Regions from separate parts of the Homo sapiens genome. Here region 1 is linked to region 2. Evidence: fine-mapped expression QTL. Tissue or cell type: esophagus mucosa. Region 2 holds a variant in brackets; the other region holds the start of a gene. All regions are shown on one strand. Distances are between the middles of the regions. Region 1 holds the start of SMAD3 (SMAD family member 3). Region 2 overlaps SMAD3 (SMAD family member 3).

What was found. PIP is the estimated chance that this variant, and not a neighbour inherited with it, causes the effect.
Region 1: SMAD3 starts here. The variant in region 2 is fine-mapped to the expression of SMAD3 in esophagus mucosa (GTEx, PIP above 0.99).

What each region holds. Positions count from the first base shown.
Region 1 is chr15:67,060,955-67,069,380 of GRCh38, forward strand. SMAD3 (SMAD family member 3) reads left to right here and starts at 4,648. Exons shown (of 9, transcript NM_005902.4): 1 at 4,648-5,406. The coding sequence starts at 5,201. SMAD3-DT (SMAD3 divergent transcript) reads right to left here and starts at 3,228. Exons shown (of 6, transcript NR_135686.1): 1 at 2,162-3,228. RefSeq lists enhancers at 1,594-1,738, 2,896-3,666, 5,206-5,974, a cis regulatory region at 1,659-1,672 and silencers at 4,425-4,914, 5,085-5,244, 5,395-5,444, 5,695-5,754, 5,775-5,864.
Region 2 is chr15:67,162,467-67,170,466 of GRCh38, forward strand. SMAD3 (SMAD family member 3) reads left to right here. Exons shown (of 9, transcript NM_005902.4): 2 at 2,429-2,622; 3 at 2,787-2,918; 4 at 4,313-4,387. Among named protein-coding and RNA genes, the nearest start is that of SMAD3-AS1, 20 kb to the left of the region's middle. RefSeq lists enhancers at 4,387-5,056, 5,057-5,728, 5,729-6,398. The variant G/A (reference allele first, on the strand shown) is at 4,001.

The sequences.
Region 1 (8,426 bases), 100 kb before region 2:
ATGAGGCAGGAGAATCACTTGAACCTGGGAGGTGGAGGTTGCAGTGAGCCAAGATCGCGCCACTGCACTCCAGCCAGGGCAATAAGAGCGAAACTCTGTCTCTAAATAAATAAATAAATAAAATTTAAAAATTCCATTGTGTGACTACAATACATCTTGTTTTTCCACCCATCCATTGATGGACACTTGAGTTACTTCTACCTTTTGACTGTTGTGAATAAGGCTGCTACGGACATGGGTGTGGAAATACTCGTAGTCCCTGCTTTCAATTCTTTTGGGTATATCCCCAGAAACAGAATGACCGGATCATATGGTAATTCTGCTCAGTTTTTTGAGGAACTGCCATACATACACCACAGCATTTTCCTCAGAGGCAGCACTACTTCACATCTTCACCAGCAATGTGCAAGGATTCTAATTTCTTCACATCCTTTCCAACATGTTATTTTCTGTTTTTTAAAAGCGAATAGCTGGCCAGGCGCGGTGGCTCACGCCTGTAATCCCAGCACTTTGGGATGCCAAGGTGGGAGGAATCAGCTGAGATCAGGAGTTTGAGACCAGCCTGACCAACATGGATAAATCCCGTCTCTACTAAAAATACAAAATTAGCCAGGCGTGGGTGGCACATGCCTGTAATCTCAGCTACTCAGGCGGTTGAGGCAGGAGAATTGCTTGAACCCGGGAGGCGGAGGTTGCAGTGAGCCAAGATGGCACCATTGCACTCCAGCCTGGGCAACAAGAGCGAAACTCCATCTCAAAAACAAAGAAAAAAAGATAATAGCCATCCTAATGGATGTGAAGTGGTTCAATGTATATCTTTTTATTTGTATAACTTCTTTCAAAATGTATATAATTATTTTGTGTATATGTAATTTGTTTTACATAGTAGCATTATGCTATTCCTTTCCCTCTGTGTCTTACTATTTTCTGTTGGAACTGTGTTTAAAATCTATACATTTGTTTTATGTACATGGAATTCATTGCTTCTCACTTTTGCATAGCACTTTATAGTATGCATGAATCACATCCATGTATATTGAGAACCTACTATGTGCTTGTACCAAGCTTTCTATATGATTTAATCTGATTCCATACAGCAATCCTAAGAAGGTGTTGTAATTATCACATTTTATGGATGAGAAAACTGACACACACAGAGTTAAGGAACGTGCCCAGAGTCACACAGCCGGAAGTGGAAGAGGTAGAAGTTTAACCCAGGTCATTCTGGTGCCACAGAAGAGCTCACACGTGTAAGGTGTTACAAAGAGCTATAGGTAGAGATCTGACTGTAGACAGAGGCTCTCTCTTAGGTGAGGGCACTCTGATAAAAGTTCTAGTCCTGATTTGGCTACTTATCTTCACAGTGCAAATCACCTTCCCTTACAGACATCACTTTCTGTCTGTGTAAGATGAAGATGATTTTAATGCTTTTTCTAGATTCACTACTTGTTGATTAAATACCCTTAAGCTAATGGGAAAATAATCAGAATTGAAGTCAGGTGTTTGTTTCTTTCGTGTATTTGGAGTGGCTGGCCTACCTGGGAGCCACTCCAAATACACGAAAACCCTCTGATGTGTCTATTCACGAGGTGAACTGTTCATAGGATGGACTATTCCCAGGGAAACAGTTGCTGTCTCCACTTCCATCCCACCTCTCCTGAACTTTGCACTTACCATGGTGAAAAATTAACTGGGCTAATGTTTCCCTCCCAAGGACAACCTCTGCAAAAGCAGGTATGGCTGGGCCCCAAAAGACCAGGTGCCAGAACAGAGTTGTACCCATCCAGAGCAGCCCACCCATTCACTGCCCAAAGTCAAGATCAAGAGAACATGCAGGGTCTTCTCAGCACTGGAAGAATCAGTTCCTCAGCCCTCCTCAGAGCTTTCTGAAACTGGACTTAGTCCCCCAGTGGAGGGACTTCTCTTGGAGAAACAGGCCTGAGGAGAAAGAACTAGCCCAGAAATGGCACTTATTAGACTTGTAGGTGGGTCCAGCACTATTTTTCTGCATGCACAGCTGTTCTTGTCACACGGATGCCAGCAGGGAAGCATGGTTCTGCCACACTAACTAGCTGGCTGCCTAGTTATTTCCTCCCCTCAGGAAAATGAGAGGGCTGAATGAGGGCCCCTTCCCATACCATGATTTTACAGGGTGAAGTACCTGTCAGGTCCTTCTACTACATGTAATCCTCAAATCTCTCTGACGCTCTTCCTCTACAGTGCAAATCACTCTCCTTCAGCAGACATTGCTCTCTCTGTAACATAAAGGACTTGAACTACAGGAGGACAGTTACAATGCTCTTTCTGGATCCACCACTCTGCACAGTGAGAACCGCTTGCTCCATTCTTACAGCGGAGAGAACGGACGCTGCCCAAGGGGAAGAAGAGAAAGAGCCGGGATTGGAAGCCAGGCCAGTCACTGATGGATCCTGAGCCCCTCTTACTTTCTTTGGCTACCTCTCAATGGTTGGACTTGTTCAGGTTAAGATTAACACTTTACTGGACGATGATGACTGCAAGGCCCCTGCCCATCTTTGCCCACTCAGTCACATCATCCTCATCCCCACCCTTTGATGCTTCTCTAGGCTGTGAACGCCTTGAAAACCTTAGTCTTTTATTTTGGAAGTTCAGGAACTGAATAGGAGGGCTGCAACTCAGAGCTGCTCCGTCAATGTGTGTTAAACTTATTTGACCTCCCTCCACCACTTTTCATGGCATTAGCAATGCAAACCTTTTCACATGAGCTTCCCACAGCCACCCTAGGAGATCGCGAGGGAAGCTACCTCTAGCCCCATTTTACAGGTGAGCAAATAATCCTTGCAGTGTTACAACAGTGTGCCCGTGTAGAGAACTGTTTTGCAAAGAGCTCGATCAATGATGTCATCTTTGCCTTCCGTGACCCAGGCAGCTGGGTGCAGTCTCAAGATCGGAGACTGAGGCTTCAACAAAGTATTGGGTTCAAATTCCAGCTCTGCCACTTGGAACCCTGAGTAAGTAATGTAATCTCTCTGTGCCTCCGTAAACGTGAGGCACAGGAACATCTACCTCACCAACCACTGTTAAGACTGAATCAAAGGGCAGCAGGCGGACTACCCGGAATGAAGAAAGCAATCAATAAATGTGGATTGTGTCATCCTTGTCTCTCTTGACGGACGGGAAGAGGAGAGTGAAACCTAAGACCACAGCGGCAGCGCGTTAACAGGAGGACCAGCAAGGAACGGAAGCCAGGTTGTCAAGCCTCAGTTGGCTTTCACGTATTCTCCTTTTCAGGCGGGTATTTAGGAAGAGAGGAGGGTGAGGAGCACAGCGCACTTCTGCAGCAGCAGCTGCGGATTGGCTTGTGGGAGGCGGTTCTCCGGAGCAAGGCAAGGGCCCCTGCCGCTTCTGGGCTGACTGTGGATTCCGCCACACCTCACAGGGCTTTGTAACTCCCCACCCACTTGAGGGTTCCAGATAACTTTTTTTTTTTAACAAAGCAGGGGTGGGGGTGGGAGATTCCTGCTGTTAAAAACAAACAAAGGGCTTAGACACCGGCTAGTCGGCTGCGGGAGGCAGCAAGAGAAAGGCCGAGGGGCCTGGAGTAGCTCCTGAAAACCGCCGAGGGCCCTGCGGGCAGACGCCCCTGAATTCTTTTGGTGGGGAGAAAAGCCGCGGAGCTCCCCAATGTGCCAATTGGTTTGTTGTTGTTTTGCTTTTTTTGAATACACAAACTCTCCGAAAACTCCTGTCTTGCCCCACTTTTTTGTGAGTTCATTGCTTTGGAAACAAAACTCTCTTCCATTTATTGGCAATTATCAAATTTCCGATCCTTCTCTATCAGGAGATCCAGCAACAAACACCCTGTTATGTAAATTTCTTTCAAAGATAAATTCGAAAGCCCCTCCATTCATTCCTTCAAGAACTCAACAGATGTCCTTGAGGCTCATTTTCTGCCGGGCACTCGGTTCACAAGGCTCAAGAGACCCCTGGCTCCAGCCATTGTCCAGGTTGTCACTGGTGTCCCCAGCTCTCCACTTCTGAGGACCCACTTCTCACCCCCTCCTCCTCCGCACACGTTCCCGAGGCTCTCGGCCGGTGTGATCTCACCGACTAGAGAATAAAAACAGCCCAGGGGCGCCGGCGCCGGCCAAGGGCCTTGACGGGGATCAGCAAGCGCGAGGCCAAGTGCGGGCCCCAACTTCCTGGGCCCGGGCCTTCCGCGCGCCCCCTCTCGGGCTCGGGTCCTCTCCAGGGTGCACTCGCGTCCGGACGACGCTTACTTGCTGCGAGTCCAACCCTCTCCGGCCCGCAACTCCAACCGAGCCGCCCGAGTGTGGACTCCGAGAGCGGACGCCACGGGCCGCGCTCAGCCCTCCCGCCCGAGGCCCCTCTCGCCGTGTTTCCCAGGACTTCCTCCCCGCGCCCGCCCGACTTCAGGTCGGGGCCGCGCAGGGTCCCGCGCGCTCCAGCCAGGACTGCCGCCGCCCGGGTCGCCCACGTGGGCGTGCTGGGCGCGGGGTGGTGGCCGGCCGGGCGCCCTCCCCGGAGCAGGGGGCGGGCAGGGCGCCCGCGGGAGGAGGTGGCGGGGCGCGGGGGAGGAGGCGGGGAGCCCCGGCGGCGAGGGGGCGGTGACAGCACTTGGAAAGGAGGCTGCACGCGGATTTGCATGAAACACAGACTGGGAGCGGGCGGGAGCGGGAGCGCGGCGCACGCCCCGGGCCGGCCCAGCCAGCGAGCGAGCGAGCGGCGAGCCGGGAGGAGGAGGGTGGCGGGGCGGTGAGGCCGCAGAGGCGGAGGGATCTGCGCATCAAAGCTAGCGAGGCGAGCGAAGTTTGGCCGGGGGTTGGACTTTCCTTCCCGGAGGCGGCACCCAAACAGCTACCCCGTGCGGAAACCCAAACTTCTGCTGCCACTTGGAGTCTCGCGGCCGCCGCCTCCGCCCCGCGTTCGGGGCCTTCCCGACCCTGCACTGCTGCCGTCCGCCCGCCCGGCCGCTCTTCTCTTCGCCGTGGGAGCCGCTCCGGGCGCAGGGCCGCGCGCCGAGCCCCGCAGGCTGCAGCGCCGCGGCCCGGCCCGGCGCCCCGGCAACTTCGCCGAGAGTTGAGGCGAAGTTTGGGCGACCGCGGCAGGCCCCGGCCGAGCTCCCCTCTGCGCCCCCGGCGTCCCGTCGAGCCCAGCCCCGCCGGGGGCGCTCCTCGCCGCCCGCGCGCCCTCCCCAGCCATGTCGTCCATCCTGCCTTTCACTCCCCCGATCGTGAAGCGCCTGCTGGGCTGGAAGAAGGGCGAGCAGAACGGGCAGGAGGAGAAATGGTGCGAGAAGGCGGTCAAGAGCCTGGTCAAGAAACTCAAGAAGACGGGGCAGCTGGACGAGCTGGAGAAGGCCATCACCACGCAGAACGTCAACACCAAGTGCATCACCATCCCCAGGTGGGGGCCCGCCCGGGGGGGACCCGGGGTCACGCCGGCCCAGCCCCCTGGCACTGCGGGGCCGACCCAGTGGGGCTGGAGATGGGAAGAGGGAGAGAGAGGGAGGGAGTGAGACTGTGTGGGTGCGTGTGTGTGAGAGTGGGAGAGCGCGGGCAGGAAGGGGGTGGGGGGACCCCAAACAAAACCATCTCTGATTTGCAAAGATCAGAGCCCGAGGCTTCCACGCGGCACTCTGGCTTCCACACCTCACATTCCCTTTCCACCTCCGGGAGGGGAGAGCGGGTTGCTGCGGGACTCGGCCGCCCCCACTCCGGGGAGCTGGGGCTGGAAGTTGAGGCCCGCTTTGTTCGGCTCCGCGGGCCGGAGCCCCTCCTCCGCCGCCGCCTCCCGCCCCCGCGGCCCGCGCTCGTGGAGGTGGTGGTGTCTTTGCGTTTCTTTTCTTCAGTCGGGTCTCCCCACTTTCCTCTACAGGAATGCGGTCCGTACAGCTGGGGCTGTGGGTGAGGAGCGGGAGCCTAGTGATTGACAGATTCCTTCTTCGTTCTTTCTTTGCCTTCGGGATTAGCATTTTTATCGAGTATTTTTAGACTCGGTTGTGCCAGTCTCCCGCCCCCTGAGCATGCACGCACTTTGGTTGCAGTGCAATGCTCTGACTTCCAAATGGGAGAGACAAGTGGCGGAAAATAGGGTCTTCTCCCACCTCCCACCCCCCCATCCCGACTCTTTTGCCCTTCTTTTGGTCCAAGAGATTTTGAAACCGTGCAGAACGAGGGAGAGGGGCAGGCTGCAGCCGGGCAGATAACAAAACACACCCCAAAGTGGGCCTCGCATCGGCCCTCGCATTCCTGTAGAGCCTTCCTTCCCAAAGCGCGCTGCCATCTGTCTGGATCTCCTTTATCCTTCCCGTTGCGCGCTAGCTAGGTCGGGCGGGAGCCCACAGATGGCTGATAGAAGGGGTCAGTGACTTCACTCCCCCAGGGCCTTCCTTAGCTTAGATGTGCCTGGCTGGGAACTGGGGGTGCGGGTACCTTGGCTTCCTGTCTCTACCTCTCAGCCTCCTTTGATGCTGAACCAAGGGAGAGAGCGTGTGTGTTGGGGGCTGGCTCTTTTGGGGGTCCCAGGCTGCCGAGGAATGAGTAGAAAGCACCAGGGACTGTCAGCCGCAAAGGGATTGTCATCCCTGCTCCTGGGCCAGGGTGGACTCCATCCTTGGCCACCTGCTTGGGGCAGTTGTACAGGGGCTGCCAGGCGAGTCAGGCAGGCACAAAGCAACATCTGTCCACGGGAACCGAGGGCAGGCCTCCCCTGGAAATAAATGCCACATATGGTGGGAGTGCGGACTTAAATTTTTTTTAACTGGGTGGATCCAGTCAATAAAGGGGGAGGGAAGGCGGTGTGCTGTCTGGGGAAGTCTCTGGGCGTGTGATCGGGAGCCAGAATTGACTTCAGAGGAGGTGGTGTGATGTGATGGTCAGAGAGACCTGGGATTTGGTTCCAGCTCTGGTTGTTAATTCTTCTGTATTCCTTCCGTGGGGGTGGCTAGGGTAGAGTGGGTGAGTATGCTACTTCTCTTTCTGGGGAGGGGTCTGCCAAACCTACCTTCTCCTTATCTGCCTGGGTGCATTGAAGACAAGTGCTTTATGTATTGAAACAGAAGAAAAAAAGTGGTATCAATTGTAAAACAGGCAGCTGTGAAAAGTGTTTCACAGTTTACAAAGCACTTTCACATGGTTTTCTGAGGTCCTCAAAAAAAGACAGAAAGCAAGCAAGCAACCAGCCATGGAAAGTAGATAAGGTTGTTAGGCTTAAGATTATCACATTTTTAAAGCAGAGGAAACCTTAAAAGAGAGAGGTGAAAAGGCTTGAGTCATAGACATGGGGTTCTGCCTGAATGTGCTCTTTCTGCTGCCCCATGCTGCTTTATACTTTGAAGATCCTGAATACATTCTTTGCTGAATGCTAAAGCTGTGTTAGCTTGGGGAGGGCCCTGTGGATCTTTGTATGTGCGGTTGCTTCTTTAATCTTTGGGCTGGTGATAGCTTGGCAGAGAGGCCTTGCTTTCCCTTGCCTTGGTAGGAGTTTGTCCTCTGTGGGGCCATACCTTTGGCCTGCCTTTTCCTCTTCCAAAGTCCTGCTGAGACTTTGGAAGCCTAAGACGTGTGAACGCTTTGGATGATTCTGAGAGTTCAAGCCAACCTGCCCTGTGGCCTTCTCGTGACTTTGTTAGGACTGAGGCATCTTCTGCCTGCCTGGATAGGACTGAATACAAAAGTAGATTTTTTTTTTCATCTTTTTTTTCAGTTAGGGAAACCCAGTTGCTTGGGTGGATCCAGACAAAATGGATTTTCATCCTTGGATTTTGTGCCCACGCCTCTGGGTCACCTTGTGTCCCTTGGCAACAGCTGCTGCTGTTTTGGTCGTGGGCAGAAAACTAAAGGCCACGTCTTGGGGAGGTGGCTGGTTTGGCCCTGTGCTGGTGATATCAATGTGTCTGCTAAGCCCCATAGATTGCAGTGTTGCTTGTCAAATTGTCTGCTTTCACCACAACTGCCTTTTAGTTTGGAAAGTAGAGAAAGGAAAATGTTTAACTTAGTCATTCCCCCTGTGTGTGGGGGGTTGGTCACTGGGTGCTTAAAAACACTCTGCAAGATCTGGACTCCGGGGTTTAAGGAGCCCTCAGTCTAAGGAGATTAAGCCAAGTGTGTTTTGGCTAATATATAATCATGAGCAGCAACAGCAACATTTGGCAATTAGAGCTGTATACTAGGGACTTCCAGACCACAGGCTTGCTTCTCTGTGACACCAGCTCTGACTTGTTTCAATTATCAGGGGAGCTGGCGTGATACACACTTATCGACATAAAGAAGGTGAAAGAGATTGGTGCCAAGGAAGTGGTAAGAGCTTCATTTAGATACACCAACAAAGGGGCTGTCAGGATACTCTGAGGTCTGGCAGGATTGGCAGAATTTACACAAGTTTTATAACAGCCTCTCATGCCTCACCTGCTTGAGTACCTGAGT
Region 2 (8,000 bases):
TGTTGGTCACACGTAGCCAGAGTTCCACAGGGCCTGTCTCTTTCACACGTATGCACAGCCCACTTACACATCTCAGAGGCTACATACTGCTTTTAGAAAACAGGAGAAGCCTTTATCATGGCCTTTGGGGCCCTGCAGAGTACCCCTGCCTGCCTCCCCGGCCTCGTCTCAAGCCAGCTCTCTCTCATGATCCCCTCTCCAGTCCTTCTGGCCTTCATTCTGTTCTTCCGACCTCACCATGTTTTCCACTTTCCACAGGGCCTTTGTGTGTGCCTTTCCCTCTGCTTGTACTGCCCTTCTCCCGCACCCCTTTGCCTGGTTAGTTCTTACTTACCCTTTAGGCCTTCAGGTCAACCATCACCTCCTCTGAGATGCCCTGTCCAGTCCTTCAGCAAAGTGGGGTGCCATGGTCATACACTCTTGGGGTTCCTTGTTATTTTCGTTCAGGACACTTTCATTGTGTGTAATTGTAGGTTTCTGTGATGATGATGATGATGATGATGATGATGATGATGATGATGATTTGAAACGGAGTCTTGCTCTGTCGCCCAGGCTGGAGTGCAGTGGCACAATCTTGGCTCACTGCAACCTCCCCCTCCCAGGTTCAAGTGATTCTCCTGCCTCAGCCTCCTGAGTAGCTGGGATTACAGGCGCCCGCCACCATGCCTGGCTGATTTTTGTACTTTTAGTAGAGACAGGGTTTCACCATGTTGGCCAGGCTGGTTTTGAACTCCTGGCCTCAAGCGATCCACCCGCCTCGGCCTCCCAAAGTGGTTTTGGTGATTATTTGATTAATGCCGGTCTTGCCCAGTGGAATGGAGGGTCCCTGCAGACAGGGACCACTTTGCTGGCCTTTTCTCATAGTGAAGTCTCTTTCCTTACCACTGTATCCTTAGTGTCACACATAATAGGTGCTCATTAAATATGTGTTAAATAAGGGACTCCATTTTAGTGGCACCTCCTCACCTGTCTAATACCAGACACTATCTGAAGTTTTACGTCCCTCCAGAAGCCTTCTGCCTCCCAGCCTTGCCTGTAGCTGACAATGCTTTTGCCGCCCCAAGCTCCCCAGTCCTTTCCTGTAAGCCACCCAGACTCTCATCATCCAGATCACCTGGGGATTTCACAAAGGGAAAGATTCTGATTTAGTAGGTTGGGGTAGGCGCTGAGAATGTACATTTTTAACAAACTTCCCTGAACCTCTGCTGCTGGTCAGGGACCACACTTTGGCCTGGCTTGAGAGGTAAGGGCACCGGGTCATAGCTGCTTGGCCAAATCACCATAGAAGACATGGTTCACACAGGGTCATGGCACTGGCCAATTGTAAGTAGGCACAGTAGTGTGCCCCTGCAGTCCCAGCTACTTGGGAAGCTGAGCTGGGAGGATCACTTGAGCCTGGGAGGCGGAGGTTGCAGTGAGCCGAGATCATGCCACTGCACTCCAGCCTGAGTGACAGAGCAACACCCTGTATCAAAAGTAAAAAAAAAAAAAAAAAAAAAAAAATCCCTTTAATTTCCGTCTTTCACTCCCTGCTCACCACAAATAACTAAAAAAGAAAGGAGGGGCCAGGCACGGTGGTTCACGCCTGAAATCCCAGCACTTTGGGAGGCTGAGGCGGGCAGATCACGAGGTTAGGAGATCGAGACCATCCTGGCTCACACAGTGAAACCACGTCTCTACTAAAAATACAAAAACAAAATTAGCTGGGCGTAGTGGCGGGTGCCTGTGGTCCCAGCTACTCAGGAGGCTGAGGCGGGAGAATGGCATGAACCCGGGAGGCAGAGCTTGCAGTGAGCCGAGATGGCGCCACTACACTCCAGCCTGGGCAACAGAGCGAGACTCCGTCTCAGAAAAAAAAAAAAAAAAAAAAAAAAAAAAAGAGGAGGAAAGGCAAGTTTTCTTTTTTTCCCCTGACTTTCTAATGTGCAAGGGAAGACCTGAGTGAATGAGGGGAGACAGCCTTTGTACTTTGTCACTCTTCTTTGGATCACTGTAGTCCTCATATCTGTGCCTAAAGAACTCTCATTGTCTTCCCCAGCCCTGTCCCCTCTCCACACCTCTGGGCTGAGTAGGAAGCCGATGAGTGGCTCCTGGACCTTTTCCAAGCACAACTGAAGTGACTGAAGTGCGGGCCCTTCCCATGGAATGCCACTCCCTGAAGAGCAGTACAAAGTTGGGGAACCCACCGGGGACTGGTGGGTGAGGCCCGCTCTGCCAGCTGGGAGTCCTCACGGGGCCTTTGTTGTCTTCTCCTGAGATCCCTCCCAGCACTCTCAGCTAGCAGTGCTCTGATCTCCTGGACCTCTGGATCTGGGAGAAATGAGGGGAGAGAGAGCTTTCCAAGTGTCTGAAAGTAGGAGGCCGGACTCTGCAGAAAGCAAGCACAATCCACATTTCCCTCTCTTTCTGCCCCTCCCCGTCCTGGCAGGTCCCTGGATGGCCGGTTGCAGGTGTCCCATCGGAAGGGGCTCCCTCATGTCATCTACTGCCGCCTGTGGCGATGGCCAGACCTGCACAGCCACCACGAGCTACGGGCCATGGAGCTGTGTGAGTTCGCCTTCAATATGAAGAAGGACGAGGTCTGCGTGAATCCCTACCACTACCAGAGAGTAGAGACACCAGGTATGCTGCCTGGCCTGCCTGTGGGGACAGCAGGTGCCAGGGGTCATCACCTCTCCCCGGCTCCCCATCCCCCCGAGGGTCTGCGGTGCACTTGGGGGTGCGGGGACTTTGGTGCTGGTCTGGCATCGACACTGAGCCACCTCTGCTCTGTCTCCCCCGGACAGTTCTACCTCCTGTGTTGGTGCCACGCCACACAGAGATCCCGGCCGAGTTCCCCCCACTGGACGACTACAGCCATTCCATCCCCGAAAACACTAACTTCCCCGCAGGCATCGAGCCCCAGAGCAATATTCCAGGTAGGCACGTGGGCGGCACAGGCTGGCCTGGGAGGCAGGGGCAGCGGTCAGCCCCGACATCAGTCCTGTGGCCCCAATCTCTGCCCCCTGGCCGTCCCCCGCTCACCCCCTCTTTGCGCACAGCTCTGGCCTGAGGGCCCCTGACTCAGAACCGCATCCCTGTTGGGAGAGGACCCATGACCTCAGCTCCCCCCTCACTAGTGATGCTTTTCTTGGCATAGAGGAGCAGCGTGACCCTTCCGCCCGGCCTTGGTGCAGTCATTTATTTTGGAAGCGGAAATAGCAACACTGTTTCTCTCACCGCCCTTGAGGCCCGGACTGGTGTTCAGTCCCAATAGACTGGGGGTCTGCAGAGGCGGGGAGTGAGCTGAGGGCCAGGCAGCAAGTGCGGAGAGCTGGCTCTGTAAATTCGCCTGGGCATCAGGCCTCGGTGAGGGGCTCCAACCTGGGTGGGAATTGAAGTGACTTTGAGTTTTCACTCTGCAGGGAGAAATGGGCTTTGCCGTCAAAGACTGCAAATGTTTTTAGAAGCCCCTCATTTACATGCAAATAACGTGTGAATCACCAGCACTTTCAGACTCCAGGAAAGCTGTGCTTGGCAGCACTTGGGCTAGTCACTTTTGCTTGCTGGGGCAGTAATCCTGCTGCGTTCCTCTTAGAGCATTCTAATTTGGACGTGACGTTCATCCTGGGTTAGTTTACTGGGCTGAGATTGGCTACAGGCCTGTGTGCTTGGGTCAGAGTGTTAAGGAGGAGACCCACTGTCCAACCTTCTCAGATCCTTTGCGGGTAGCCCTGGCGTCCCGCGGGTAAGTCAACTACTCCCTGTTCAAAGAGCAAATCTTGGAGGGCTTCAGTCAGGGTCTGGGGGAGGTTTCAGAGAAATAGATCACACTGTCTTTGCCGTCATTGAACTTGCAACCTAACTGCTGAGTGAGGACACGTCCCTTAGAGACAACAAATAATAACACCTGGTCTGCACAGAAGAAGATAGTAGGGACCAAAGGGTGGGTCTGAGCCTGCAGATCTTCAGAGGACAGAAAGGGGTGAGGCGGAGGCAAGTCTGGACGCCTCCCTGGAGG[G/A]GGTGGGGCTTAACCCTCACCTTGAAGGACCAGGATAAGTTAGCCTGGCAGAGGCTCTAGGAGTACACATTTCAGACTTGGGAGTTGATCCGGTCCTGCGTGAGCAAAGGCAGTTATGATCCAAGCGGGAGTCAGAGGTGGACAGGGGCGAGGACAACAGAACCAAGAGCTGGAACCTCTACTCCAAGACCTGGAGCTCCTACAGCCACGGATGCTAGCATCATGGTGTGCATGTGTGATGTCTTTGCAAAAGGTGTCTCAGAGCCAAGCTGTGAAGGCCTTTTAACAGACCACCTTCCTTCTGATTCCCAGAGACCCCACCCCCTGGCTACCTGAGTGAAGATGGAGAAACCAGTGACCACCAGATGAACCACAGCATGGACGCAGGTCAGTCATGCAGGGTCATGCTCTTATTCTTAACTGATTAGCAGCTGGTGGGTTCATCCCTTCCATCCCTTCCTCTTCGCCCTCTCCCTCCCTCCCTTCTATCTCTCTCTCCAGTATTTGTAGAGCAACCGCGATGTGCAAGGGGCAGGGCATAGAAGAGGGTCCGAGCTGCTCACAGATGATGGGGGAGATTGACAGGACAGTCAGTAGTCACTGGGCCATCTCGTGTATGCCCTGATGGAAGATGCCGCATGGCACCAGGCACACAGCAGGGCCACTTCACCCGGTCTGGGGAGGAGCAGCACCTTGCAGTCCAGGTTTTTCCCCAGGTTGAGTCTTGGTGATGTGTAAGTGTTAGCCAAGCTGTTAGAGTGGGCAAGGGGTGTGCCAGGCAGAGTCATGGGGGTTGGGCAGGACAGCCTGGTGCATTCTGGGGACAGTAAGAGCTCAGTGTGTCTGGAGTCCAGAGAGTGTCTAGCCCAGGGAGCTCAGCGTGGCTGGAGGATACACTCTCTCCAGTGGGGAGAAGATGGGAGGGCCTGCCACACAGGGGTCCCAGTGTGGTGGACCTTCAAGCTAGCCAGACCACTTGGCATTTAGTCAGGGCTGATGGGAACCGCTGCAGGCTGTAAGCAGGGCCTGTGCCTTAGTGAGATGTCACCAGCAGCAGGGTAGAGAGTGGCCTTGATCACCTCAAGCAGTCACATGGGAGGCAAGGAGAGGCTGAATGGAACTAATGCCTCTTCTGATGACCAGTGGAGACCCCTGAAGCCAGTATTTTTGTGTGACAACCACATGTGATGTGTGTGCTCCTGCCGTGAGGGGCAGGGCTTATTTCTCTCCTGCTACATCTCCAGATGTTTCCCATATCATTTGTTATAGGACCAAATTGGCTCCAGACCAGCAGCTTCTTGAATTGAACCCCAGCTGCCACATAGAATGTGTACTGAGTTGTGTGTGGTTGGGAGAGGAGGAGAAGGGGAGAGGGAACCACGCAGATGTTCCATTCCGATGGTGGTGGGCATGCCTCGTACACACAGAGCCGCTAGACACAGCAGAGCCACCTGCCCTCGCACACAGCCCAGAAGAGATTGTGCAATTCCTTCCCCCACCTTTCCCAGACAGAGTCTCCCTCTGTTGCCCAGGCTGGCGTGTAGTAGCGCGATCTCAGCTTACTGCAACCTCTGCCTCCTGGGTTCAAGCTATTATCCTGCCTCAGCCTCCCAAGTAGCTGGGATTACAGGCAATGCAGCACCACGCCCGGCTCATTTGTGTATTTTTAGTAGAGACAGGGTTTCGCCATGTTGGCTAGGCTGGTCTCAAACTCCTGACCTCAGGTGATCTGCCCGCTTCGACCTCCCAAAGTGCTGGGATTACACCGCACCTGGCTGAGGTTGTGCAATTCCTGAGAGACCGAAAGAGACTCGCATGTACATTGTAGTTGCTGAAATCCAGCCTGGACATCGTGGCACTTTTGGGTTGAGCACACCCGGTGAAACACACCCACCCGGCGGAGTGACTAGTAGCGCGAACCAGCTGGAATGCATCGAAGACCTTCCTGTATCCGATGCCAAGTGACCGCTGCAAGCTTGCAGCTATTCAGTGCAGGCGTGGGAAGCAGGCCAGCGGAGCAGCATGTCTCCAGCTGCTGTGTTTCTTCCCACTCTGCGCTCCCTCTTCCCTTTCTGCTGCTCTCCATATTTGCACAATGATTATTGTTACAAACAAACATGGACCAGAGGGGCTGGAGATTGGAAAGAGCAGCCCAGATTTCACCCTGTCAGCTCTTGTTTCTTCTCCCTCCTCTTCCTCCTTGTGCCTCCCTTTACTCTGTCCCCTCTCCCTTCTTCCTTTCTTCTCATTAAGTGTGCCTGCAGGGTCCTGTTGTGAACATGAGTGATTTATCTACAGTAGAGACAGACCAGACTTGCGGACCCCAGCCAGTGTGTGGGTGGGGGCTCTCCTGTTTTAGTCTCTGTTCTTCAGAGTTGCCTGCTTGGATAGTCCAGTTGCTCACGGGCTTGGCTTCCCTGCCCCCCAGGGTGTGGTAGTGTCTCGGGCCAGAGGGTCACGTTGTTCCCCATGTCCCTTCACCTACATATGCGCCCTTTTAGACTTGTGAGAAGGCCCCTTGGACTTCCTAGGTCTTTGTGGTTCAGGCCAGCACAAAACAGGGGACAAGCATTTATCCAGTGCCTACCATGTAGCGGTCATGGTGTAAGCATTTTTATATGCACAGTCTTACTTAATTTTTACATGTCACACAGTAGATGATATTATCCTCATTTTATACCTGAGGAAAAAATTAAGGCTCATAGAAGTTAAACGGCTTAGCCAAACTCACGTAGCTGATTCGTGGGGTTGTCTAGACCCTGTGACTGATTCTGTAACTTAGTTCTCTCGGTGAATATTCCACATCCCCCTTTGCATTTGGGGTTACAGGGGAGAAGGAGAAATCCGTGGTTCTTCCCTTGCCCTCAAGGAGGTTACAGCTGAGTTGGGGCAAAAGAAGAGATTCCCACAAACAGCGCAAGGCAGCATTCACTTGAGGCCAGATGCTGGACCCAGTCTCAGGACTGATAGATTTCATGGGGTGGAATTAGACCCCATAGGGTGGTTAACAAATAGTCTCCTTTTTTATTTTTATTTTTTGAAACAGTCTCACTGCTGCCCAGGCTGGTGTGCAGTGGTGCAAACACAGCTCGCTGCAGCCTCCATCTCCTAGGCTCAAGTAATTGTCCAGCCTCAGCCTTCACCACTTACGGCTTATTTTTTTTTTTTTTTTTTTCTGTAGAGACAGGGTCTCCCTATATCACCCAGGCTGGTCTCAAACTCCTGGGCTCAAGTGATCCCCCAGTCTCAGCCTCTCAAAGTGCTGGGATTACAGATGTGAGCCATTGCACCCGGCCTCCGCAGCCTTCTTGATAGAGGAACAGAGGAGCGGGGACGAGCAGGATGCTGCTCTGGAAAAGTGTCCACTGTTTTATTTTTGAAGGCTGATACCATGTGAGTTCTTTTTTTCTGGAGGTGAGAGGTGTAGAGAACATAATAGAGTAAGAATTGGGTAGATTGAGACTTTTTCCCACGTGCATCATCATCTTTTGCATAAAGTGTTTGTCTGGTTGCTGAGTTGCAGGGTTTCTGAGGCAGGTTTGTGAGTTTCCTGAAATTGATCTTTCCAGCACCTGAGCTGCTGCAGCCTCTGACCAAGGTCGGTGGCTGGTGATGCTGGGGAGGCCTCAAGCCCTGCCTGTGTGGGAGGGCTGGCCTCCTGCTTCCTGGGTCTTTGCAGCTTGGGAGAAGGGCTTCCCTGCTCCTCTCATTTTCCTGAGGGCATAGTTAATAGGGCAGGTGGTGTAAGCTAAAGAAAAAATGTGTCACTTATTCTAGTTGAGAATTTAGCAGCCCTGAGCTGGGAGTCTTGGTTAGGATCATAAAACTATCTGAGACCTCTGAGATCATAATCATAAGAGACCTCTGAGATCATCCACTCAATGCATTCATTCCAGACAAGAAATTGGGGCCCAGGGAGGGAAAGTAGAGGCAAGGGTATGGGCTAGGCCTTCTCCTGGGACCCCTCAGTCCAGGGTTTTCTTTCTGCTGTGTTGGGCTA